4 linked regions of the Homo sapiens genome follow. The protein of the gene in region 2 interacts with the protein of the main gene of each other region in a pairwise test. Each region holds a gene or a part of one and is shown on either strand. Other genes may lie near its edges. The genes, in order: SEC22B, GORAB, PAEP and TRAF3IP3.

Evidence for each region.
Region 1: the proteins of GORAB (region 2) and SEC22B interact in binary tests that used the Homo sapiens proteins (3 or more experiments, as listed by UniProt).
Region 3: the proteins of GORAB (region 2) and PAEP interact in binary tests that used the Homo sapiens proteins (3 or more experiments, as listed by UniProt).
Region 4: the proteins of GORAB (region 2) and TRAF3IP3 interact in binary tests that used the Homo sapiens proteins (3 or more experiments, as listed by UniProt).

What each region holds. Positions count from the first base shown.
Region 1 is NC_000001.11:120,159,520-120,166,550, reverse strand, and holds part of SEC22B (vesicle-trafficking protein SEC22b), read left to right. Parts: intron 1-3,180; coding exon 3,181-3,341; intron 3,342-6,020; coding exon 6,021-6,167; intron 6,168-7,031. UniProt on the Homo sapiens protein: SNARE involved in targeting and fusion of ER-derived transport vesicles with the Golgi complex as well as Golgi-derived retrograde transport vesicles with the ER.
Region 2 is NC_000001.11:170,549,146-170,554,345, forward strand, and holds the end of GORAB (RAB6-interacting golgin), read left to right. Parts: intron 1-2,869; coding exon 2,870-3,317; 3' UTR 3,318-4,689; downstream 4,690-5,200.
Region 3 is NC_000009.12:135,557,193-135,564,774, forward strand, and holds the start of PAEP (glycodelin isoform 1 precursor), read left to right. Parts: upstream 1-4,563; 5' UTR 4,564-4,609; coding exon 4,610-4,705; intron 4,706-5,101; coding exon 5,102-5,241; intron 5,242-5,627; coding exon 5,628-5,701; intron 5,702-7,051; coding exon 7,052-7,162; intron 7,163-7,582. UniProt on the Homo sapiens protein: Glycoprotein that regulates critical steps during fertilization and also has immunomonomodulatory effects. Four glycoforms, namely glycodelin-S, -A, -F and -C have been identified in reproductive tissues that differ in glycosylation and biological activity.
Region 4 is NC_000001.11:209,759,030-209,766,060, reverse strand, and holds part of TRAF3IP3 (TRAF3-interacting JNK-activating modulator), read right to left. Parts: intron 7,028-7,031; 5' UTR 6,927-7,027; intron 6,080-6,926; 5' UTR 6,022-6,079; coding exon 5,677-6,021; intron 3,547-5,676; coding exon 3,399-3,546; intron 3,249-3,398; coding exon 3,191-3,248; intron 2,994-3,190; coding exon 2,969-2,993; intron 2,699-2,968; coding exon 2,669-2,698; intron 2,570-2,668; coding exon 2,474-2,569; intron 1-2,473. UniProt on the Homo sapiens protein: Adapter protein that plays essential roles in both innate and adaptive immunity. Plays a crucial role in the regulation of thymocyte development.

The sequences.
Region 1 (7,031 bases), about 50 Mb from region 2:
ATGCCATATTTATCTTTCTGTGCATGACTGATTTTATTTAACTTAATGTCCTCCAGATTTATCCATGTTGCTGCTAATGATAGAAATTCATTCTTTTTTATGGCTGAATAGTATTCCATGGTGTGTGTGTGTGTGTGTGTGTGTGTGTGTGTGTAAAAAACACTTTTAAAATCCATTATTCTCTTGATGGACATTTCTCTTGATTATCTATCCATAGATATTATGAATGGTGCTGCCGTAAACATGGGGGTACAGATAAGTTTTTAACATAATGAGTTTTTTTCCTTTGGAGAAATACCCAGCAGTGGGATTGCTAGATTGTATGGTAGTTCTGTTTTTAGTTTTTTGAGAAACCTCCATACTGTTTTCTATAGTGTATAAAAGTTCTCTTTTCTCTTCATCCTCAACAGCATTTATTGACTTTTGTCTTTTTAATAGACATTTTAACTGGGGTGAAATAATATGTCGTTGTGGTTTTTATTTACATTTACCTGAAGATTAGTGATGTTGAGCATTTTTTCATATACTTGGCCATTCGCATGTCTTTTGAGAAATGTCAATTCTGTTCCTTGCCTACTTTTTAATTGAATTATTTTTGGTTTTGCTGTTGAGTTGTTTGAGTTCCTCGTATGTTCTGGATATTAGTTCCTCATCAGATGAATGAAACTAGATCCCTATCTCATCATATACAAAAATCAACTTAAAGTAGATTAAAGACTTAAGCATAAGACCCTAAACTATAAAACTACTAGAAGAAAACATAGGGGAAATGTTTCAGGACATGAACCTGGGCGAAGACTTTATGGCAAAGACTTCAAAGCACAGGCAACAGAAAAGAAAGTAGACAAATGGGACTGTATTAAACTAAAAGCTTCTGCACAGCAAAGGAAACAACACAGTGAAGAGACAACTTGCACAATGGGAGAAAATATTTGCAAACTCCTACTTAAACTAAAGAACCTCTGATTTTATCTGATATATACATTGGCCTTCTGAATATGTTTTGCTTGTTATATATACATATTCCATATATAAATATATATATTTGCATGTGTGTGTATGTATACTATGGCTAAAAAGAAGTTGGAAAACCACTTAGTAGCCTAACATTTTTCTAAGAATTTCTCAGATGTGTAATCATACAGCCCCTTCCAGAGTGCATGGGCGCTCATCATCACAAAAGAAAGTCAGTTCCATTGTTGATAAGTTTCCAGTTGATTACAGAGTTCTCCTGGACTGTAAATTAAGGAGTCTTATTAGTCTTGTACCCAGTAAACATTATGTCATTAACCTTACATTTCTATCCACAGAAATTTCCAGTTACAGTGTTTTCCTTTGTGGCTGGAAAGAGTTTAAATATGTGTATGCTAGTTTACCATATAGAATCAAAGGGTGGATGGAGTCACAACTCTGAATTTTTCAAGAAAAAGTCTTAAGTATTAAGCAAAAAACAACCCCATTTAAAAAATGGACAAAAGACATGAGCAGATATTTCTCAAAACATACTAGAGGCTAGCAAACTAATGAAAAAATGCACATCACTAATTATTGGAGAAATGCAAATCAAAACCACAATAAGATACCATCTCACAACAGTCACAGGGCTATTATTAAAAAGTCAAAAAACAACAGATGCTGATGAGGCTGTGGAGAAAAAGGAATTGCTTATACACTGTTCGTGGGAATGTAAATTCAGCCACTGTGGAAAGCAGTTTAGAGATTTTTCAAAGAACTTAAAACAGAACTACCATTAGACCCAGCAAACCCATTAATGGGTTTATATCCAAAAGGAAACAAATCTTTCTACCAAAAATCATGCACTTGCATATTCATTGCAGCACTATTCACAATAGCAAAGATATCAACCTAGGTACATGTTAGTGGTGGATTGGATAAAGAAAATGTAGTATATATACAGTATGGAATACTATGCAGTCATAAAAAGAAATGAAATCATGTCCTTTGCAGCAACATGGATGGAGCTGGAAGTCATTACCTAAGTGAATTAATGCAGGAACAGAAAACTAAATACTGTATATTCTCATTTATAAGTTTATAAGCTAAACATTGGGCACTCATGGACATAAATATACTGAGGACTTACTAGAAGAGGAGGGAAGGAGGGGGCAGGGGTTGAAAAACTATTAGGTAGTATGCTTAGTACTTGGGTGACGGGATTGTTTGTACCCCAAACCTCGGCATTATGCAATATACCCAGGTAACAAACCCGCACATATACATCCTCAAGCTAAAATAAAAGTTTAAAATGTTAGTTGAAGAATTGTGTAATGGGCTGGGTCCAGTGGCTTACACCTGTAATCTCAGCACTTTGGGAGACTGAATTGGGTGGATCGATTGAGGTCACGAGTTTCAGACCAGCCTGGCCAAAATGGTGAAACCCCATCTCTACTAAAAATACAAAAATTAGCTGGGTGTGGTGGTGGGTGTCTGTAATCCCAGCTATTTGTGAAGCTGAGGTGTGAGAATCACCTGAACCTGGGAGGTGGAGATTGCTGTAACTGAGATCATGCCACTGCATTCCAGCCTGGGTAATCTGGGTGATGGAAAGAGCCCTGTCTCCAAAAAAAAAAAAAAAAAAAAAAAAGAGAATCTAATGGATGAAAAATTATAATAAATATGTCTAAATACTCCTTTTAGAATATACGGCTAATAGGCTGGGTGCAGTGGCTCACGCCTGTAATCCCAGCACTTTGGGAGGCTGAGGCGGGCGGATCACGAGGTCAAGATATCAAGACCATCCTGGCCAACCAACGTGGTGAAACCCCGTCTCTACTAAAAATACAAAAATTAGCTGGGCATAGTGGCGCACGCCTGTAGTCCCAGCTGCTCGGGAGGCTGAGGCAGGAGAATGGCTTGAACCCGGGAGGCGGAGGTTGCAGTGAGCCGAGATAATGCCACTGCACTCCAGCCCAGGGGACAGAGCGAGACTCCGTCTCAAAAAAAAAAAGAAAAAAAAAAGAATATACATCTAATAATGGGAAGATGTTTGCTTTCTGATTCCAAGGATTTGCGGTTTTAAATTGACTCTCGTTTAGCCAGCCTCAAAGTATTTAGGCTAGATTTTTTAAAAAGTTTGCATGGTACAGAGATTCTGCTTTAAACTGTTGTCAGTGCTATTACTTTACAGATAACTTTGTCTTGCTTTTTATGTCTCACCAGCTACATTATTGAGCAGGGGGTGTGTTATTTGGTTTTATGTGAAGCTGCCTTCCCTAAGAAGTTGGCTTTTGCCTACCTAGAAGATTTGCACTCAGAATTTGATGAACAGCATGGAAAGAAGGTGCCCACTGTGTCCCGACCCTATTCCTTTATTGAATTTGGTAAGTTTTTGCCCCTCACTTCTCTCTATCAAGGGAGCAAACAATATGGAGAAGCTATTTGTTACACTGATATAATATTTATACATTTTTTCTGATGTTTACTTGCTGAAGTTTTAGCTTCTGCATCCTTTTCCATTCCACTTCTTTTTGTCTTTTTGAGTGACTAAGGCTTTGTTCTGAAAAGTAATTTTCTCTAGTCTTTTGATCTTTCCCCCATAGAAATTGTTGCCTTTTGCCCTTTCTGTTATTTGGTTTGATTCTTCTTTAGAGTCACATGTGACAGGAACTGTGCCTAAAGATCTACTTGATTGGCATATAATGGCTGAGTTCTTCTTTACCCCAGTCCACAGACTCACACTCACAATAAGGCTCATTTTATGGAGATCAGAATTGGGAAATCAGAAAGAATGATGTTTTGTTTCTTTTAGTAGAATAAGATCCTCTAATTAAAAAAACAAAACATAACAAAGAAATAGAAGATACCTGGTACTCATGGTATTGGGGTATAATATTTACTACATTCAGGAATAGTGAGCATAGGTGTCTGTATTTGTGCAAGAATTATAGAAAGACTAATTACTAATCAGACCTGGTAAAGTATCTGATGGTAAGGGATCAAAGGAAATGTCCTAAGTACAGTAAGTACAGGGAGTGAGAACAAGTAGGATCAGGCTATATCGCTGAAATTTTTAGTTAAAAGAGAAATTGGTTTTACTGGCTTAGAATTTTTGAAGTGTTTCAAGTTTGCTAGATAAATGGGTCATCTTGCTTTGGAAAAACACTCTAGTGTTTCATAACTATATACTCTCCAAGTGCTGCTTTATATAATGTCCAGTTTTTCAAATTTTATTTTTATAGACAGTAATACTCCCATAAACCTCCCTCAAAAATAAGACAAATGTATCAGGGTCATACAGGAAACAGATGGCACACCCAAATTAGCTTAAGGGATTATATACAAAGATATGACTAGGCTGTAGGAGAATTACAAGGTACAGTAACCTCTGACCAGTAGCATACTGGTTGTTACCATCCCTAGGCCTGAATGTATAAGGGGGAGGAGCAGTTTCTGAAACTGAAAAGGAGAAAATTTCTAGAGAAGGCCAACTTGAGAGGAGCGTAACTTTTGGTAGAGGGATACTTCCAGAAGAAGGTTATTTCCTTCTCTGAAAGAAGCCAGGGGAATAAATACCCGGACATCACTCACTGTCTGTTCTCCTTCTTCCCTACTGTTGGGGCTTCTTCATTGCCTGAACCTAACTGGCACAGAGCAAGGAGTCTTGAGGCGCTTCATCCAAGTCAGCTTCCCAGTGCAGAAAGCAAGGTGCAGGAGGGCAGAGAGGAGATCTAAAGAGGCAAATGAAAGGGGTACAGCACACTTAAATTAAGATTTTTGCCAAAAGTTGAAAATATCTTTAATAATAAGTCATTCTTCCTATAGTTTTGAGAAATACTGATATGAGCAAAAGATGGATGAGACTTCAGTTTTTATTTATTTATTTATTTACTTAGAGACAGAGTCTCGCTCTATTGCCCAGGCTGGGGTGCAGTGGCATGATTTTGGCTAACTGCAACCTCTGCCTCCTAGGTTCAAGTGATTCTTGTGCCTCAGCCTCCTGAATAGCTGGGACTAGAGGTGCACGCTGCCATGACCAGCTAGCTAATTTCGGTATTTTTGGTAGAGATGGGAGTTTTGCCTTGTTGGCCAGGCTGGTCTCGAATTCCTGGCCTCAAGTGATCCACCCATCTTGGCCTCCCAAAATGCTGGGATTTATACGTGTGAGACACAGTGCCTGGCCGAGACTTCAGTTCAGTTTTGTATTGGTATTTTGGAAAACTCCCTATTACATATTTGCTTTACCTGAGGTTTAAGAATGGAATGAAACTGGGAATGTATATTAGAGAAAAGGTAAAGTTTCTCAGCTTTTTAATGATCATGAACCCTTTTGCCATGTTAGGCTGTAATAATGCTAGAGTGTTACCAGCATCCTTTTAAGGAATGTGTAGAGGTAAGTAACACTTAGCCTAAGGGTCCTCAGAATACTGTTTGAAAATTTCTGTTTTCAGGAAAGGCTTACTATAGTGGGTCTTAATTTCTCTAAGGATTCTGATAGCAGCCTTAGATAGCAAATACTTCTAATTCAAAGGTATTCAAAGGACATTTCTCCTGAATGGTCGTCTAATTATACCTTTACATCTTACAAATGAAATAATCAAAGCCTAGATTTTGATATTCAACCAAGAGTTTGGTTAACCATGGACAGTGGCAAATCCAGGAATAAACTCAGAACTGTTTTGGTTTTTTTTTTTTTGTTTTTGAGACAGAGTCTTGCTCTGTCACCCAGGCTAAAGTGTGGTGGTGGTGTGATCTCGGCTCACTGCAACCTCTGCCTCCCAAGTTCAAGTGATTCTCCTGGCTCAGCCTCCTGAGTAGCTGGGATTATAGGCGTGTGCCGCCACGCCTGGCTAACTTTTTATATTTTTAGTAGAGACGGGGTTTCACTGTGTTAGCCAGGATGGTCTCGATTTCCTGACCTCATGATTCACCTGCCTTGGCCTCCCAAAGTGCTGGGATTACAGGTGTGAGCCACCGCGCCTGGCCAACTCAGAACTTTTAATCTCCTACCTCAGTACTTTGATGGCCATGAAAGAAATGGTCAGTTTTCTTCATCATTCTAGATACTTTCATTCAGAAAACCAAGAAGCTCTACATTGACAGTCGTGCTCGAAGAAATCTAGGCTCCATCAACACTGAATTGCAAGATGTGCAGAGGATCATGGTGGCCAATATTGAAGAAGTGTTACAACGAGGAGAAGCACTCTCAGGTATCTAAAAGCAATGAGTCTTATGAAGAAATGGTTCTCATTCCATAGACAAGGATAGCTTATTTTGCAGTGCCTTTTATGCTATTAGATTCTACCTAGAACTGTTAAGAATTTATCTCCCAGAAGTACATTACATTACAATGCTTCCAATATATTTTTTTTCCTAGCATGATTAGTTTTTGTTGAGTTGGAACAGTGTAAAGGACTCATCCATATTAGAAGCAATGATTATTTCTAAGATATTCACAAAATTAATTAAATTATATAACTTGTATAAATTAAGGGAAATGAATGAGAGAAAACTCAATGATGTATTGCAGTGGTTTTTTGAGTAGCCTCTTTGGGAGACTTTACTGCTGCCAGATCAATCTTTATAAAATGCCATTTTCATCAAGGCATTCCTCTGAAAAACTTTTAAATCTGGGACTACAAGATAAGATCCAGTCTGACTTATTTTTCCGTCAGTCAGCCATTGTTATTGAGAGCTTGTTATTTGTAAGGCATTGTGCTCTACATATGGAAAATAAGGAAGATGCAAATGTCTGTCATTCTCTAGTTCACAAACATTCTTCTGTAGCCACACCAGCTTCTTTACTATCCTTAGTGGTCTATTCTGCCTTATGCTGGACCTGTTCTGTAAGACCTCCATAAGAACTGTCTCTTTAAAGAACCTTTCTCTGATCCTTATAGCCTGTATCACATTAATCTCTTCTGTACTTTAAACTCCTAAAGCACTTAATAACATAATGGTTTTAGCACATATTACATGTATGTGTGTTTACCTAATTTACCTTAAATATATTTATTAAATACCTCTTACCATATTAAATATATATTTAATATATATTAAATATATTTCCATAT
Region 2 (5,200 bases):
CATTCCATCCCCCTTTAAAATAACAAAACAGTTCTATAATTACATTTCCAGTTCACTCTGTCTTACTGTGTTATGTATAATGCTCTTATTATTTTGTTCCAGAATGTCATCATACACTAATTTGGTATTACCCACCTGACCATAGGCTGGTAGTGCAGTTTGTGAAACTAATCAATATTTTAAACATTAAATCACTCTGTGGGAGAATATATATTCGTATTTCTGGCCAGAAGGACTTTAAATAAATAAACAAAATACAAAATCTTCAGTGATTTATCCAGGGTGATAGATCAATGGAAACCAAGGGACCTGTTCGCAAATGTTAATTTCAATTCAGTATTCATGAATCCAGACTGTAAATCTCTACTGATTGACTTTGACTGGCTGAAGGAGACCACAGACTTGCAGAAAAGGGAGGTTTGAGGCAGGGTCAGGGCAGGGTATTCATACACCTATAGAGAATGTCAGAACTCTTGTCTTGTTGCAAGAACATTACATGAACAGGGTATGTTATAAAGTATGGAGATAAGGGAACTAGGTATCCAGTAGAGTTCCTTTAGAACAATTCTTTTAACATAGAGGGTTATTGAAAGATAATGGGTGCTCTCATTTTTACATTTACTATATTTACAGTTAAAAAAGGAAATAGGATAAATTAACATTATGTAAATGAGTTTTCAAGTATAAATACCAGGTCCCTAAATTTTCCATAATCTTAATTTTAGATTCATGCTTACTAATATATTAACAGTACTTTTTGATTCTGGTGTTCTAAATGAGAAGTTCTGTTTCTTGAGCACCTACCAGGCACAAAACTGGAAGTTTGCCCCATTTATACTGTTTAATCTTCAAAACTCCTATGAGGTATTATTATCATCATTGTTTTACAGGTAGACCAAGACTCAGCTTAAGTAACTGCTCAGAGTCACTGTGCCGGAATTTTCAGTTATTGCATGCCTCTTCCCCAACCCCTTCCAGAGGAACCTGGCTGTGTTTTGGACTCAGGATGCTGACCTGGGGCATACCTAATTAGAATAGTGATGGGCTACCGACTCCAGTACATTTAATCCATAGGCTAAATAGTGGTTCACGGCATGGCCTGACACTAAGAGTTCTGTTTAAACTGAGATGAGCCGGGCAAACCTATGTTCTCCTCTGAGAGTGTGGAATTGGATCACTGAGAGATTGGGTGGAGTGAATTTGATACAGAGTGCAGGTGGTGGCCATATTGGCCTGTGAGTATGATAGGAAAGCTGAAATGAGAGAAAATGTGTCGCTTCTAAGCATTGAAAAGAATAGCCTTTGATTCTGATGACATGACTATGAAATTGCCTCGTGTATCCTACAATAAAACCCAATTTTTACCTGAGCTAGTTTGACTGGATATCTGTTCTTTGTATCCACAAGAAGCCTTGACCGAAATGGGTACACATGGTAAATGTCAGGAAGGTTTTGAACCCTGAGTTTTCTAAAATGAAAGCCATTTATTATTTTCACTGTATTTTCTTCCAAGACAGAGAATCCTAAATTAGGAGATATACCTGTTTCTTTTTTGCTATAACTCTTGTACTAGAAGCTACTTATTACACTAAGTTGATGTAGGCACTCATAACAGGTAAAGCAGCATGGCCTTCACAACTGCTAATGGTAATGAAATTAAAGAACTAGTTGGAAATCAATCTTTTTTCTTGCAAGAGAGGAAGGACCCTCTTGTTGCAAAAAGAAAAGCAACAAATTTTATAGAAAAGGCAAAAGACAATAAATTAAGACACGATAACTCTTCTTTTTGTACTGACCTAATGCAGAAGAAAAAAAGTGAGATTGCAAGGTGACTTCTCTAGTAGAATTGCCCTATTTCACATAAGACTTCACATAAGATTACCTGTCAACAGAGTTTATACATGTGTAACTATGTAAAATTTCCTAGTAAGAGTGTAAGAGGAGTAGTGGAGAGAATGAGAACAACTTAACCCAAGGATTCTCAACTGGGAGCATTTGTGTCCAATAAGGGACATTTGGCAATGCCTGGGGACATTTTTGGTTGTCATAAATTTTGGGAATTACTGGCAACTAATGGGTAGAAGCCAGTGATGCTGTTTAGCATCTTGCAGTGCAGGACAGCTTCTCACAACAAATAATTATATGGCCCAAATTGTCAGTAGCACCAAGGTTGAGAAATCCTGCATATAGCTATCCTGAGGTTTTCTACTTGATGTTTACTTCTTGCCCTCACCCAGTATCATTTTGCTGGGTGTGCTCTGTTCCATTTATATTCATCTCCCGACCACTGTCCGTATCTTTCTCCATCAGAATTTTTCTTTTTTTCTAATTTATTAATCAAGAGAACAATTTTCCACTTTCTCCATCTCTTGTCTGTCTTCTCATAAATTTAACCAGCTGTGTGCTGAAGCTAGCTTACCCTGGTTCATGTGGATTTTGTGTATCTCTTCCCAGTTCTGCATTCAGTAATATCACGTTGGTGGCTTGAAATTGGACAGGGTGGTAGTAATTATCCCATGGAAATGTAAACGCTACAAATCAGGGCTCCCCATCCTCCCACCCCAGAACTAGCATACCACTGAATTAACCTTTTAGCCTGCCTTCACTCAAAAACAGCTTTGTAAAGAAAACATTCGTGCAGAATAACATGTTTTCATTAGGTGAATTCAAGTAAGGATACTGTGAAAGTTTCAGCAGCCATAGCCTAGTCTGGCCAACATGTAGACAAGTGTTTGTAAAGTAGTAATATCCGTATCTTCATTATATATTTTTTCCCAATTTTGGAGTTGAGTTATTGTTTCTAGATCCTCTTTTGAATATCTTCTTCAATGGAAAACTGATGGACCTATCTTTATACACATCCTTACAGGAAGCGGTTTGACAGGGCTGAAGCAGAGTACATTGCAGCAAAGCTAGATATACAGCGCAAGACTGAGATAAAAGAGCAACTCACTGAACACCTTTGTACGATCATACAGCAAAATGAGCTCCGAAAGGCCAAGAAGTTGGAGGAGTTGATGCAACAACTAGATGTAGAAGCCGATGAAGAGACTTTGGAGCTTGAGGTGGAGGTCGAGAGATTGCTACACGAACAAGAAGTAGAATCAAGGAGACCAGTGGTTCGTTTAGAGAGGCCATTTCAGCCTGCGGAGGAGAGTGTGACATTAGAATTTGCTAAAGAGAACAGAAAGTGTCAAGAACAAGCTGTTTCCCCAAAGGTAGATGACCAGTGTGGAAATTCCAGTAGCATCCCCTTTCTTAGTCCAAACTGCCCAAATCAAGAAGGTAATGACATTTCAGCTGCTTTGGCCACATGAAGTTCTGGTATTCTTTTGAGCTAATATGGTATTGAGTAAAGTATACTTTTTGCAGTAGATCATGCCCTGACCTCCAATAAAAACCTCTTTAAAACAATGCTGATTTTTGAATTCATGATTAGTTTTAGTAAATTAATAGGTTTGGCCATTCTAAAATCCAAAATTATGATAACTGTATTTCTAGGGGTATGTTTCACCTTGATTTTGGCCCGGTTCTTTCAGTGTTCCGTTTACCCTTTTTACTGAAAGTAAGTGACTTAAAAGGATGGAAGAAAAACTACATGGTTGGAGTGTTTTTAGATCAGATAAATATAGAAAAGTAAAATGGAAAATGATACTCAATACCTAGTTAAACTCATTTCACTTCTCCTGGGAGACGTATTAAGACTGGAAGTCCTATTTTATTTAATCAGTATCAGTAAAAAGACAAAAATTACAGTGTGAACAAGAGAAAAACAGGAATAGAAGAAAAAAGTTGCAGGTTGAATTATCTATCTGGATATTACTAGAGTTGTAAAACACAACTTGGAAACTGGAATTTATGTGAAGAACCAAACAACTTAAACCAGCATCACTTTTGTCTTCAATTTGCCTTCCAGTGATTTTAGTTTACAACCTGCGTTTTGTTATTTGAAACACACACACTTATATATAAACACATGTAATTTTACTATTTTATTGTCTTTCCTTTAATCGATGAATTGATTAAATTTAGACAATTAAAACATTTCTAAAGTGAGACTGAAAATAATATAGAAAATCTCATTGCTACTTGTGATTATCAAAAAAAGTATGTATTTTCTTTCTAAAGTTATCTATAAATATGTTTTTGATATGTTGGACATGAATTACCCTGTCATGAAGCGTTTAAATTGTTAAAATGCTGATTTTCTTATTAGTTTGTTAATTGCCTGTTACTAGTACTTGACCAATACATTGTGCTATATGTAAATGTGTAAATAAATATTGTAATTTTCTCACAAAGTCTGTGAATATCACATTATGATTTATTTATCAGAAATTCCAAAAAGTAAAAATATTACCTTTGAGGACTTTTTTTTTTTAAAAAAAGAATTATTATCAGAGAACATAAGCACAAGTATAAGATTGTATCCATAAAAGTTTCTGAAAAACTTAGGGACATCCTGTTTTTAAATGGGTTTGTTTGAGGGTATTATCTTCTGGTAATATAGATGAGCTTTATATTTTTATATTATGTAATTTGAGTTGAAAGTATAACATTTTACTACTGACTTCTCTAAACAGAAGCATTTCTATAGATAGTTGTGCTTTTATTTATGAAATACATAAAAGCCAACAGTTTCATTGTCTAACACACTTCTTTTTCTAAGGAATAAACAAGTCTGATGTACTTATAGTGTCTTTCATTTACCTTAAAAAAATTTCAAACAGTTTAGTATGTATTAAGCATTGTGTGACAATAATGCATCTTGGATCTCCTTGTGGTACATACAGTTACTTACTTTTATTAAGCCTCTGTTAAGGAAAATTCATTATCAGTGAGGTTTTATAATATTGGTTAAATGCAGGCATGTGCAATCTTAATTCTCAGTGTAAACCCTTCAAAGATATATGAAGAAATGAGAACCGTGAAAAAAATATAAGTTAGATGAGACCTCAGAGATAATCTAATTTAATCTTTTATTTTTTTGAGATGGAGTCTCACTCTGCCACCCAGGTTGGAGTGCAGTGGCACGATCTCGGCTCACCGCAACTTCCACCTCCCAGGTTCAAGCAATTCTTCTGCCTCAGCCTCCCAAGTAACTGGGATTACAGGTGCCTGCCACCACACCTGGCTAATTTTTCTATTTTTAGTAGAGACGAGGCTTCACCATGTTGGCGAGGCTGGTCTCAAACTCCTG
Region 3 (7,582 bases), on a different chromosome or scaffold from region 2:
AGGCAGATGTACTCGTCTGTCTAACCATTCATTCACGGATGGAGTTTTCCAGTTATTAGCTATTACAGGCAAAGCTGCTGTGGACAATTGTGTACCGGGTTTTCTGTGTCCATTTATCCCATTTCTCGGGATAAATGCCCAGGAGTAAAACTGCCAGGCTGTATAGTAAGCATATGCTTATTATTTTTGTGTTGTTTTGTTGTTTTTTTACACGGAGTCTTGCTCTGTCACCCAGGCTGGAGTGCAGTGGCGCAATCTCGGCTCACTGAAGCCTCCACCTCCCAGGTTCAAGCGATTCTCCTGCCTCAGCCTCCTGAGTAGCTGGGACTACAGGTGCACACCACCACACTCAGCTAATTTTTTGTATTTTTAGTAGAGATGGGGTTTTACCATGTTGGCCAGACTGGTCTCGAACTCCTGACCTCAGGTGATCCATCCCCCTCTGGCCTCCCAAAGTTGGGATTACAGGCGTGAGCCACCACTCCTGGACCAGCATATGCTTAGTTTTAAAAGAAACTTCCAGCTGGGCGTGGTGGCTCACACCTGTAATCTCAGCACTTTAGGAGGCCAAGGTGGGAGGATCTCTTGAGCCCAGGAGTTCAAGACCAGTCTGGCCAACATAGTGAGACCCAGTCTCTATTATTTAAGCTTAAAATTTTTTAAATAAAAAACAAAAGCAACTTCCAATTTCCAGCATGGCTGAACCATTTTAGAGCCACTCAAAGTATGCATTTCTCAACATTTTGAGAGATTCAGTTTGTCTCCATCCCCACTAATATTTGGTTTGGTCCCTACTTTTCATTGTAGCTGTCCTAATAGGTCCCTACTTTTCATTGTAGCTGTCCTAATAGGTCCCTACTTTTCATTGTAGCTGTCCTAATAGGTCCCTACTTTTCATTGTAGCTGTCCTAATAGCTGGGCTGTGATAGCTCACTGTGGCCTTAATTGGTGCTCCTTGATAGTCAATGACATTGAGCATCTTTTTAGGTGCTTATTTGCCACCCATAGATCTTCTCTGGGGAGATGTTCCTTCATGGTTTTTGCCCATTTTCTAGGTGGATTTTATTTTTGCTGTTGAATTTTCAAAGTTCTCTATATCTTCCAGACACCAGTCCTTTGTTGGATATGAAACTTTCAAATGTTTTCTCCAAGTTTGTAGCTTGCCTCTTCATCCTCTTTTTTTTTTTCTCTCTCTCTCTCTCTTTGTTTTTTGAGACGGAGTCTCACTCTGTCACCCAGGCTGGAGTGCAGTGGCGTGATCTTGGCTCACTACAACCTCTGCCTCCTGGGTTCAAGTGACTCTCCTGCCTCAGCCTCCTGAGTAGCTGGGATTACAGGCATGTGCCACCAGGCCTGGCTAATTTTGTATTTTTAGTAGAGATGGTGTTTCACCATGTTGGCCATAGGTGGTCTCGAACTCCTGACCTCAGGTGATCCGCCCACCTCGGACTCCCAGAGTGCTGGGATTACAGGTGTGACCCATCACGCCCGGCCCCGTTCATCCTCTTAACAAGGTCTTTCTGGAGCAAGAGTTTCAGATTTTGATGCAGTATGATTTACCAGTTTTTTTCTTTTGTGGATCTTGCATTTGGTGTCAAGTCTAAGAATTCTTTACCTAGCCCTACGTCCTGAAGATTTTCTCTCACGCTTTCTTCTAAAAGTTGTATAGTTTTATGTTTTACTTTTAAACTATGAGTTAATGCATATGTCAGGTGTGAGTTTTAGATGGAGGTTCTTCGTTTGCATGGGATCGATTGCACGTGATGAATTGCTCCAGCACCATTTGTTGCAAAGACTGTCCTTCTTTTAGAGGGACTCCCGCTTGCCAGGCCTCTGGTTTAATGAAACATGACCAGAGTGACTCCATCTTAACGTGAATAACTAGACACTCACAAGGCACCTATAAGGTTATATAACGAGGCTATGCTGCTCGATACTGACTACGACAATTTCCTGTTTCTCTGCCTACAGGACACCACCACCCCCATCCAGAGCATGATGTGCCAGTACCTGGGTGGGTCTCACAGCACATGAGCTCAACGTGGGTGAGAGGCAGCAGCTACTTCCATGGCTGGGAACCCTGGGGAGCTGACAACTGGCTTCCTGTCCACCTCAGTGCCTGTGGGCTGGTTTTTTCTTTCTTGGTTTTTTTTTTTATTTGTTTGTTTGCTTTGTTTTTTTTGAGACAGGGTCTCATTCTGTCACTCAGGCTGGAGTGCAGTGGCGTGATCTCGGCTCACTGCAACCTCCACCTCCCAGATTCAAGCGATTCTCGTGCCTCAGCTTCCCGAGTAGCTGGGATTACAGGCGCGAGCTTATGGTCTGAAAATACCCGCATACTAAGCTGACCACCAATTATAACTGCAGAACATTTATGCCCATACGAGGCATCTCCCACCAAGCCTGGAGAATGTACCGATGACCTGGGAGTGCAGGGGGTTATCTTTGCTCACAAATAACGTCAACGAGTAGGCTGAGGCTGAAGGGCAAATGGTCATTGATCACACTAGGAGCCCCTATCTTTAGCGAGTGCATCTGCATGATCCAGGTTTCACTGTAGCTCATTACAGCTTCTTACAAACAGAGGCACTCACAGAGGACGGGCGTTCCTCCTGCTCGCTGAGGTTGCCCGGCTCTGGCACAGAGTCATTTCCCATAAACTTGCTTTCACTGTGCTCTGTGAGTCACCTTGAATTCTTTCCCGTGTGAGATCTAAGAACCCATTCTTGGGGTCTGGACTGGGACCCTCTTTTCCGACAACACTTCCCCCACGCACTGTTCTTGCAGCTTTGTTAAAGGTCTGTTGTTGTTGTGTGTGAGTCCATGTTTGGACTCTCTATTTCCCATTGATCTATGTGTCCATTTCTCTGCCAATACCACAATCTCTTGGTGACTATTGATAATAGTGCTTGTAAACTTGGGTAGACTAACTCTTTATACTTTATTCTTCTTCAAAATGGCTTTAGCAATTGTAGCTCCTTTGCCTTGACATGTAAATTTTAGAAAAAAAAATTTCTCTATATATCTACATATGGTGGGGTGTGGTGGCTCACACCTATAATTCCAGCACTTTGGGAGGCCGAGGTGAGCAGATCACTTGAGGTCAGCAGTTCGAGACCAGCTTGGCCAAAATAGTGAAAACCCCTCTCTACTAAAAATACAAACATTAGCCAGGTGTGGTGGTGGGCGCCTATAATCCCAGCTACTCTGGAGGCTGAAGCAGCAGGATTACTTGAACCTGGGATGCAGAGGTTGCAGTGAGTCAAGATCGTACCACTGCACTCCACCCTGGGCAACAGAGCAAGACTTGGCCTCAAAAAAATGTATATATGTATATATGTGTGTGTGTGTGTCACACACATGTCTATAGCTACCTACAAAATATCTTGCTGAGAATTTGATAGGAATTGCATTAAATCTCTAGGTTGAGTTGAGGAGAGCTAACACCTTTGCTGTGTTGAAGCTTCCAGCCCATGAACACATTGTGCCTGTCCTTTACCTTAGGTCTTTGATTTCCCTTCCTTGGGTTCAGAGTTTAAGTCCTGTCCATATTTGGTGAGATTTTTGCCTACATGCTGTGTGTGTGATTACAAATCCTGAATTTCCAGTTTCGGGTTCTGTCTACTCCTTGACACTGTGTGGGAACACGGTGGATTTTTGTGCGATTGACCTTGCTGACCTCACTCGGTTCTAGGAGGGGTTTTGTAGAGTTCTTGCAATTTTGTACCTGGGCAATGATGTTATATGCGAATAGAGACAGGTATACCTCCCCCTTCCCAATCTGCCTGCCTTTAGTTACCATTTCTTGCCTAGCTGCTCTGGCCGGAATGACCTGCTCTGATGGATGGGGGAGTGGGAGTGGACACCCGTGTCTTGCCTCAGGACTCAAGTGCTCTCCAGGGAGTGAGATGCGGGCTCGATTGTAAGTTACAAAGTGATGCTTCCCTGTGGGAAAAAGTACATCCAATATAGACTGTAGGACAAAGTCTGAAAGTCCACTGCCTCCCATTTCCACCCAGTCTTGCCTGTGAGTCAGAGAGAAACAGTGCTAACAGGCAGTGTGCACCTGTCCAGAGGCTGGCTGTTTGAGGGACACAGGTGTGCACACCTGGGGATGTCTGAGTGGAAGGTACAGGTCAGGATTATGACCGTGCAGTCAGTCACCCACTGGCATGATGTCTGTGGCATCCTGGGGCAGCCATGGGGCTCTCAGGCCCTCTGCCTGCCCCACAGGCCATACCCCTGCCCTGGACACAGCTGTCCTCAGTGCTGGCCTCTGACCCAACATTGTCCAGGAGCCCCAACCCAGAAGGTGCTCCCGCCGCTGCCAGCCTGGACCCGACCCAGGCCCCTCCCGCCTGAGGCCCTGCCAAGAACTGCCCAGCCCGGACACAGAGGAGGTTCCCGCGTGGACGCAGGGAAGAGCCTCCCATTGCCCCAGTGGAGGAAGCTGCCCAGGGGCCAAGGATGAGTCACAGGTTCGAGGAATCACATGGCGAGGCTGTGGGCGGGGATCTTGTCTGCCCTCCTCCTACATAAGGCCCCCTGAGCCCACACTGCCTCAGCATCCCTCTGGCTCCAGAGCTCAGAGCCACCCACAGCCGCAGCCATGCTGTGCCTCCTGCTCACCCTGGGCGTGGCCCTGGTCTGTGGTGTCCCGGCCATGGACATCCCCCAGACCAAGCAGGACCTGGAGCTCCCAAAGGTTTGAGGCTGGGGGAGCGGGCACTTTACTGTGGGAGGCCTGGGGCGGGTGGGAGCTGCGGGCAGGCAGGAAGCCCAGGATCTCAGAAACCTACAGGAAGCACAGAATGGACGCCATGACGTCAGGAAGCCCTCAGCCCTGCTCTCCATCTTTAGGGTGGCCTCTCTGGTTTCCCAGCATCCTAGGTGACTCATTATTTGGACTTTGGAACACTCCTGAGTTAGCACACACTGGTCATTTTAAGTACAGGAAATTTCATAGCCCAGGATCTGGTAGATAGCAGACAACCATCCAATGCTCACTGTACCCATCCCAGTTAGACTCAGCCCCGTCTGCACCGGGTGCAACGAGAGCCATGGTGGGGTGGGACCGCCGTGCAGCCCAAGGCCCCCTCAGTTGGCAGGGACCTGGCACTCCATGGCCATGGCGACCAACAACATCTCCCTCATGGCGACACTGAAGGCCCCTCTGAGGGTCCACATCACCTCACTGTTGCCCACCCCCGAGGACAACCTGGAGATCGTTCTGCACAGATGGTGGGTTTCTCATCATTGAGACGGGCTGGGCGGGGGCTCAGTCTCCCCCCTCAGGGGTCCAGGACTGGGTGGGTTGGGCGGAGCTGGACTTAGCCCCAGGCATTTTCTGACAGCCAGGGGCTTCACTGTGGCCCTTCCATGAGGGTGGGGTGGAAAACCAGGGCTCCAGACGTTCCCTGTCCCCTTGGATCCCCTGCCCCAGGCTCTGGGCCAACAGCCAACCACACAGTGCAGCCCCAGGTCAGACTGAGGAGAAGGTCTGGGCGGCTGCGGGCTGCGGTGCTCCTTGGACCCGGGGAAGTTCCCGTGGTGACCTGATTTTAGGAGTGACAGTGAAGGCAACTCCAATTCAAGTGGCCACTCATCCTATTGTCACCACCTTTCAGGGAGAACAACAGCTGTGTTGAGAAGAAGGTCCTTGGAGAGAAGACTGAGAATCCAAAGAAGTTCAAGATCAACTGTGAGTGTCCCCAGGCCCCAAGGGCTGGCTCAGTGCTGGCATGCTAGCCACGCTCTCCCAGAGGCGGCTCTGCTGGGGCATGAGGGAGTGGGGCCTGGCCTGTCCCCACTCTCTCTGCTTCAGGGAGTCAGAGTGTTTACTCCGGTCAACCTGATGCTGACCCCAGAGGCATCTTTTACCTGGAGGGCAGGGGAAGCACTAATTCTTGGCATGACATGACTGGATGTGGGTCTGCACTGTGCCCAGGCACAGGGGACAGGTGCTTTGTTGCACTGTTCACTCTGGCCTCACAAAAGGCCAGGGAGGCTGCAGGCGAGCAGGTGGGCAGGTGGGCAGGTGGGTAGGTGGGTAGGTGGATATGTATACAGGTGGGCAGGAGGGTAGGTGAACAGGTGGGTAGGTGGGCAGGTGGCTAGGTGAGTAAGTGGTTAGGTGAACAGGTGGGCAGGTGAGCAGGTGGTTAGGTGAACAGGTGGGCAGGTGGGTAGGTGGGTAGGTATACAGGTGGACAGGTGGGTAGGTGGACAGGTGGGCAGGTGAGTAGGTGAACAGGTGGGTGGGTGAACAGGTGGCCAGGTGAACAAGTTGGTAGGTGGGCAGGTGGGTAGGTGAACAGGTGGGCAGGTGGGCAGGTGGGCAGGTGGGCAGGTGGGCAAGTGGCTGCTGTTCCCGTGGGCCTGGCTGCCTCCTGCGCACTCTGGGGCTGCAGCTCTGGTCTTAGGCTGAGCTCCCAGGCCTCTCTGGGGGAAGAGAGAGGGGCTTACAGCATGTCCTTGGTCCACTGAATTCTTCCTAACAATTTGCAACATTTTGTTCTATTTTGTTAATTATTATTTTTTTAAAAAGACAGAGGTGGTCAGGGTCTGGGGCCTCTTATCCCCTCATGGGCACATTTTCCCAGCAAATACAGTTTGCTTCTCATGCTTGGGACTTGCCTCAGGCCTTTCTGACCCTGCTTGCCCTCCCCAGAATCGAGCCACTCTCCAAGGTCCATTTCTTCTCCCTCTTCCCGCCCCTGTGCCCTGTTCCTGTGCCATCTCCCGCCATCCTCACCCGTACGTGACTTCTCAGTTGGAGTCTCTCCAGGTCACAGCCTCCCTGCCTGCCGTGTCTGCCTCTCCACGGCACACCTGGCCTCTCCCCCTCAGCCGGGGCTCCATGGCCCTCCACATTGCCTCTCCTCCCCTTTCCTCCCTGGCTTCCCTGATCATGGTCCACAGCAGGGGCCACGTCCCATGGTGTCAGTGGATGAGGAAGCCACTTAGTGTGGTGGGATGTCCACACACCTGCACAGGACTCTGCTGAGACGGAGGCTTCATCTTCCTTTTGGTTCTTCTCTTCTTTCCCCAGATACGGTGGCGAACGAGGCCACGCTGCTCGATACTGACTACGACAATTTCCTGTTTCTCTGCCTACAGGACACCACCACCCCCATCCAGAGCATGATGTGCCAGTACCTGGGTGGGTCTCACAGCACATGAGCTCAACGTGGGTGAGAGGCAGCAGCTACGTCCGTGGCTGGGAACCCTGGGGAGCTGACAACTGGCTTCCTGTCCACCTCGGTGCCTGTGGGCTGACTTTTTTTTTCTTGGTTTTTTTTATTTGTTTGTTGTTTGCTTTGTTTTTTTGAGAAAGGGTCTCATTCTGTCACTCAGGCTGGAGTGTAGTGACGTGATCTCGGCTCACTGCAACTTCTGCCTCCCAGATTCAAGCGATTCTCGTGCCTCAGCCTCCAGAGTAGCTGGGATTACAGGCGCACGCCACCATGCCCAGCTAATTTTTGTATTTTTTGGTAGAGACGGGGTTTCACCATGTTGGCCAGGCTGGTCTCCAACTCCTGGATCAAGTGATCCACCCGCCTTGGCCTCCCAAAGGGCTGGG
Region 4 (7,031 bases), about 39 Mb from region 2:
TGTCACACAGGCCGGTGAGGTTGTGTGCTCCATCTCTTTCCACCCGGTGCGGTATGCTTTGGTGGTGTCAAGCTGCTTGTAGCTCATATTAATACATGAATTTATAGTACATACTAATTTACAGGTTTCAACATGGGGATTCTGAGGAAACTTGGGAATCCCCAAGACCCTTTTAAGGGATCAGCAAAGTCTTACTTTTTCTAATGACATATTTGTGTGAAACTGAATTTTTCTTTATGTTTAAACCAATAGATTGAATACAGAAGCAAATTGAGAAGCTAGCTGTCTTTTTTTTCAGCCAGACATTAAAAATATTTGCAAAAGTGTAAAGCAATGATACTCCTGTCACTAATTTTGTTTTTGAAAATATGGTTCTTTTTCTTTTTCTTTTTTGAGACAGAGTTTCACTCCCATCGCCCAGGCTGGAATGCAGTGGTGCAGTCTTGGCTCACTGCAACCTCCACCCCTGGGACGTAAGAGATTCTCCTGCCTTAGCCTCCTGAGTTCCTAAGACTACAGGTGCATGCCAATGTACCTGGCTAATTTTTTGTATTTTTAGTAGAGACGAGGTTTTGCCATGTTGCCCAGGCTGGTCTTGAACTCCTGAGCTCAAGTGATCCACCTGCCTTGGCCTCCCAAAGTCTGGGATTACAGGTGTGAACCACCGCACCCAGACTGTTTTTCTTAAAACATGTAATTCAGGTTAGCATGAAAAATTTTACTCTCATTATTTTAAAATTAATAATTCTTTCTCAATTTCTATCTTAATTTCTTCCTTCCTTCCTTCCTTCCTTCCTTCCTTCCTTCCTTCCTTCCTTCCTTCCTTCCTTCCTCTCTCTCTCTCTCCCTCTCTCTCTCTCTCTCTCTCTCTCTCTCTCTCTCCTGTCTCTCAGAGTCCTGCTCTGTCATCTAGGCTGGAGTGTAGTGGCACTATCATCGCTCACTGCAACCTCCACTTCCTGGGCTCAAGCGATTCTCGTGGCCCAGCCTCCGGAGTAGCTGAGATTACAGGTGTGCACCACCACGCCTGGCTAATTTTTGTATTTTTAGTAGAGACAGGGTTTTGCCATGTTGGCCGGGCTGGTCTCTAATTCCTGACCTCAGGTGATCTTCCTGCATCAGCCTTCCAAAGTGCTGGGATTTACAGACATGATGCACGGCACCTGGCCAACTGTTTTAATTTCTAGTATGGTAAATATAAACATTTCTTATATATTTTCAATAATTTAAAAAGTATAAAGGAATCCTGAAATAAAAAAATTGGAGAACCATTTTACTAGACTGTGTCATGCCTTTAGATTTTTTTTTTTTTTTTTTGAGATGGAGTCTCGCTCTTTTGTCCAGGCTGGAGTGCAATGAGGTGATCTCAGCTTACTGCAACCTCTGCCTTCTTGGTTCAAGCGATTCTCCTGCCTCAGCCTCCTGAGTAGCTGGGATTACAGGCATGTGCAACCACACCCAGCTAATATTTTTGTATTTTTAGTAGAGACGGGGTTTCGCCATGTTGGCCAGGCTGGTCTTGAACTCCTGACCTCAGGTGATCCACCCGCCTCGGGCTCCCAAAGTGCTGGGATTACAGGTGTGAGCCACCACCCCCGGCCTTGCCTTTAGACCTTTGCCTGTACCCCAACTAAAATACTATTCCTTCTTCCATATTTTCCTGGCAAATGCTTATATAAGTATTCCCCTGGCTCTTTTCTTCTCTGGAGTCACTCATTCCTTCTTGTATTTTCCTATATCTTGAAAACATTTCTTTTATTTTTCATGTTTTTGTATTGTTTAGTCATGTGTCTTTCTTACAAAACCGTGAGCCTTCTCAAAGCAAGAACCCTATCTAAATAATCTCATTATTTCTAGTGCTAGTCCAGTGCTCTGTATAGAGGACATAACCTATGAATATTGTACATTGAATGGACTAAAATCAAAGGCCTGAATTTTAGTTGCAGATCTGCCACTACCTAGCTGTGTGACTTTTCGCAAGTTACTTGACCCCTATGAAGCTCAGTTTCCTCATGGGCAAAATGAGAGTATTAGGCCAGATTGTCTCTAAGGTCCCTTCCCACTCTGATATTTTTATTCGGACTGAGTGGGTACATGGCATGCTGGTTTCGATAAATATCAGTGGGAATCCCATATGAAAATATTTGACATTTAGCATATTTAGTAATGTAAACTATATTGGGATCTTCCTTCATTCCTTCCAACAAATTAAAAAATGGGAATTCTTGCCACTTTTGTTTCTGGGTCTTCCTTGGATATGTAGCACCATGACCCTCAGGTGATGACCCATATATTTATTGTGACCTGTTTGACTTCTAGGTCTGAGCACCATCCCCCTCATCTCCTGCCTCTTCCCAGCTTACTTTTCAGTAGTGAGAAAACCCCTTCTCTTACTGTGATGATGTGGAAAGAAAAATGAGATGGGAACACATAGAAGCCCAAGCTTTGTTCAAAAAGAATTTCATTCCCTTACCTTCCAAGAGCTGTCAGAGGCCTGAATCAGAGTGGACAGTAGGTCTTGGAGAATCACCATTTTCTGTTTTAGGACCAGCTCCCTTTGTAGGGCCTCCTGGGGGTGCGGGCACAAAGTGCAAGAGGGTAAGATTAACCTGGAGGATCGGGGGTAAGTGGATGGAGGAACTGAGGGGAGGGGTCACATGCCACTTACTTTGAGGTAATCAGAAAGCTGGATGATTTCCTGGAGAGAAAGAACAAGGGTATTCAAAATGTCTGTAAGTCCCCTGAAACCCTGGGATATAGAACCAGAGCCTGGGCTGGCTTGTGTAGAGCAAACCTCTTCTGCTTTGGCTCTGACAGGGTCCCTTTAGTCCCCATGTCTATGCTCAGTACCCCCTTGCCATCCAGGAAGAAGATGCCCCTCCATCCCAGCCAAGTTTATCATGGAATTCCAGAATGTCAGAGCTTAATACTTTCTGATTTGACCCCTTCAAAGTGAATATGTGCTTACCTTATCCAGAACTGCAACTCCGTAACTGGAAAGAGAAGAAATTAAAAATAATGATAATGGACCAAAGAATCAAGTCAGGAGGCAGTGGGTTGATTCCTTCTGAAGAGCCAGTAGGGTGGGGAAGGGCTTCCTCTTTCTTAATTAAGGCGGACATGGAAATTCATTGTGTTCTCTCTAGAGAGGAATGGATGGGATGTGAGAGGGTTAGGGTCAGGAACTCACTTGGTTTGCTGACTGGCATCGTTCTTAATTGTTGGTCCTTCTGCCTTTGTCTGAGTACCTGAGAGATGGAGGATAAGTTGATTTAGAACTTACAGGGAGGAAGTGAGGGAAGTGGGGAGGGACAGGGACTCTCCATTGCCAGTGAGCTGGGACAGTTGTCTCAGGATTCTCTGCAGGCCCTGTGGAGTGAGGGAGGCTCTGCTCTTACCACGGTGGTGTTTGGGTGGCTTCTTGATGGGAGTGTCCTGTGGAGGAAGGCCCCCAGCCTGTGAGGAGAGGTGGTCAGACAGATCCCTGCAGATGCCTGAGGGAGGAGGATGCTGGGCTGGAAAGACTTCAGAGCTGGTGCCTGTCACCTGGAAGGCAAGTGGGGAATGCTGAAAACCACTGCCTGGAGCCTCTTGAAAGACTCTCCTGATGATTTCGGAAGGAAGAACTAACCATCATGTTTGTTATGGACTGAGTGTTTATTGTCCCCCCGCCCAAATCTGTGTGTTGAAATCCTATCTCCCAATGTGATAGTATTAGGAGGTGGAGACTTTGAGAAATAATTAGGTCAGAGCAGGTAGCCCTCATGAATGGGATTAGTGCCATTATTAGAAGAGACACGAGAGAGCTTGCTTTCTCTCTCTGCTCTCTGCCTTGTGAGGACACAATGAGAAGAAGGCCATCTGCATAGTGGGAAGAGTGCTCTCATCAGACACCAGATCTGCAGAATCCATGGGTTTAGAACTCCAGACTCCAGAATTGTAAGAAATAAATTTCTGTTATTTAAGCCACCCAGTCTGTGGTAATTCATTACAGGACGAAGACAATGTTTCAGATCCACAAAACCAAAGTAGCCCACTCAAGCTTTCAGAGCCACACAGGCTTCTCCTGCTCCTGATATCCTTGTCCTGACTGGCAGAAATGGTCCTCCTCAGGCCAGGCATATGTGGAGCTGTACTTTTCTCCAGGTTTTCTCTCTAGAATCTCTAGTTGTTGTTTTTTTTTCTCTCTCTACCTTGTTTGGTTATGGCCACTTACATAGCCAGCATGGTGATGTGGAAAGAGAACTGGTCTGAGTGGGGAGTGAGGGGATCTGGGTTCAGATCCCATCTTTTCTAGGTCTCAGTCTTCTGTCTGTGTAGTGAGGAGTTTGGAATAGATAATCCATAAGGTTCCTTCCATATTCAAAGGAAAGCCTCCTTTCTCTTAGTAACAGCTAGAAAATCATTGAGGTTTTGTGTGAAGACTAGGTAAAGTGGGGAGTTGTGGGAAGGTTTTTTGCTTTAGTATACAGTTCCTTTTCTTTTGCAACTGGGCTCTAGGATCATTTCTCTGAACAGCATCTCCTATTGAGCATAACAGATCCACTAGTTAAGAAGCCCTGATAGAGTACCCACTCTGGGTAGGGAACAATGCCAAGCATTACCATGGAACATAGTGGACACATCCCTGCTGTCAACATGCTCACAACTTCAGTAGGAAGATGGTTTGCTGGCCAAGGTCATCTCAGCATACCCTGGTTTTTGCCAACATTGTTCCTTTCCAGGCCAGACTAATGGGCCCTCTAAGGGTTACACAATCTTAGAAGATTTTAACCTCACAAGGCCCATAGACAGCAGAGGTGGCCTGGAGAAGCCAGGGAAAGCTTCCTGGACCAGATGAGGCTATAGTCAAGTGATTTAATAGAATTGGAATGACACAAGAGGAAGTGAGAAGAGTGGGCACAACAGCCTTGCAGAAGAAAAGAGGACAGATATGTCTGTGTGTGTGTCAAGAAGACTGGCCTGTGTGCTTGGCATATAATAAGCTTTCAGTAAATATTTGATGACTGATGGATGAATGAATGCTGTAAGATAGCTGTAGAAGACATGTGTATATTGCCTAAATTTGAACTGATATAGGCATTAGCTTTGGAATTATTTTTATTTATTTTATTTTTAAGTTTTTTAGAGATAGGGTCTCCCTCTCTTGCCCAGGCTGGAGTGCAATGGTGTGATCATAGCTTATTGCAGCTTCAAACTCCTGGGTTCAAGTAATCCTCCCATCTTTGCCTCCTGATTAGTTAGGACTACAGGTGTGCACCACCATGCCTGGTTAGTTTGTAAAGTTTTTGATAGAGACAGGGTCTTGTCTCTATCAAAAGGCTGGTCTCGAACTCCTGGCCTCAAGTGATCCTCCTGCCTTGGCCTCCCAAAGTACTGGGATTACAGGTATAAGCCAACATGCCCAGCCTGAAATTGTTTTTAAAAATTATTTTTTCTCTCTTATAAGTCAAGTGCAGAACAAAAAGAGCTAAACAAACGAAAACACAACAGCAAAAATCTCTGAATAAGTAGCTGTTGGCAACTTTACTATAAGTAGCTCTTGGCAACTTTACTATATGACTGAGGAAGAAGGACTTGATTTAGGTCACTTTTTAGTGACCTTGAGCCCACCCACCCTCCTTGTCCAGAGAGGGTCCCAGAGCACACAGCAGTATGTCCCTTGACACGGCCCACCTGCTCTCTGGGAGAAGAAATCCTTCTGGCACAAGACAAGGGTTCCTTGAGGACAGTCACCTGTCCTGGCCGCCTGGAGGGCCCTTGCTCCCTGGCCTGGGGATGCTGCGCTTTGCCCTTCTCCTCTAGCTCCAGGTTCCTCCTCCTGAAGAACTGCTGCAGTCGAGCTCTCTGGAGCTGCTCTCTCTGTTGGATCCTCAGCGTCTTCCCCACCTGGCGGCAAGTGGTCACATTGGGACGGCAGCGGCGGCTTTCACGGATCTCTTGCCTGCGCTCACACTTGGCCTCATAGCTCTCAGCCCACCGGGCCAAGCCAGGGGAGGGCCTGGGGTCTGGGCTGATCATGATGACCTCCAAGCACCTGTTGCGCTTGGCTTCCAGTTCCTGGAATAGATGCCTGGATCTGCCAAATGCCAAGAGGGAGGAGAAGGGGAGGGGTCAGAAGATGGGCAGAAAAATGACTATCTCCCTAGACCAGGGGGCAGAAATAGCACAGAGTTCCATCCATGTGGGTTGAAAACTGAGGACATGGTGGTATCAAAGTGGGAGTCAGGACTCTTGGGCTCAGTCTCTAATGAACTAATACAGTCTTATAAAAGTGAATTCCTGCTTTTCTCTAGCCGATGTTTCCCCTTTGTAAAGTAAAAGGGTCTCTATGGCTGCCACTTACTCCTTGACTGAACATCTTACCATGCCTCTGAGTCAGGGGAACATGAGAAATAATTGATTAAAATCATAATGAGCTTATAGCCTCTTGGATGGCAGGTGTGTGTTCATTTTCCAGACTTCTAGAGAAGCAGCTAAGTTGAGCCAATCTGCCCTCTTATCCCCCAGTTGAAAAGGAAAGTCAGTATCTTTACTGGTCTCTTGGTCCAAGCTGTCACTAACATAGTTGAGTGACACTTCTCAAGGATCTGGAGGGCTAACCACACCCCCTCAGGTGGTGACCAGTCCTGTGACCAGCACCCACTGCTCTCTTCTTGACTTTTAGCAACGAGCTTGTGAGCCTGGACCTGGCATGGTTTAGGAGGGAAACCCTACCCTAATTCCTCCAACCTGCTGTCCTGACAATGGTCCATGGGCCCCCCACTCCAAGCTCAGGACTGGGCTGTGTCTCTCAGGTGCAGATCAAGTCCAATCAATATTGACTGAGCATCTGCCACATGCCTAGTGCTGGCCAAAACCCATTTCAGAGCATCTGGCTCCAATACTGTTGGGGCTGAGGGTTCCATTTCTTTAGGATTACCAACCTGTCAGGGTTAATGTTGGTGCCAAGTCTGCTTTCCTTAGCCCAGACACAGATTGTGCCATCCAAACCCACAAGCACATGAATTGTACCTCAATAAGGCTGCTGC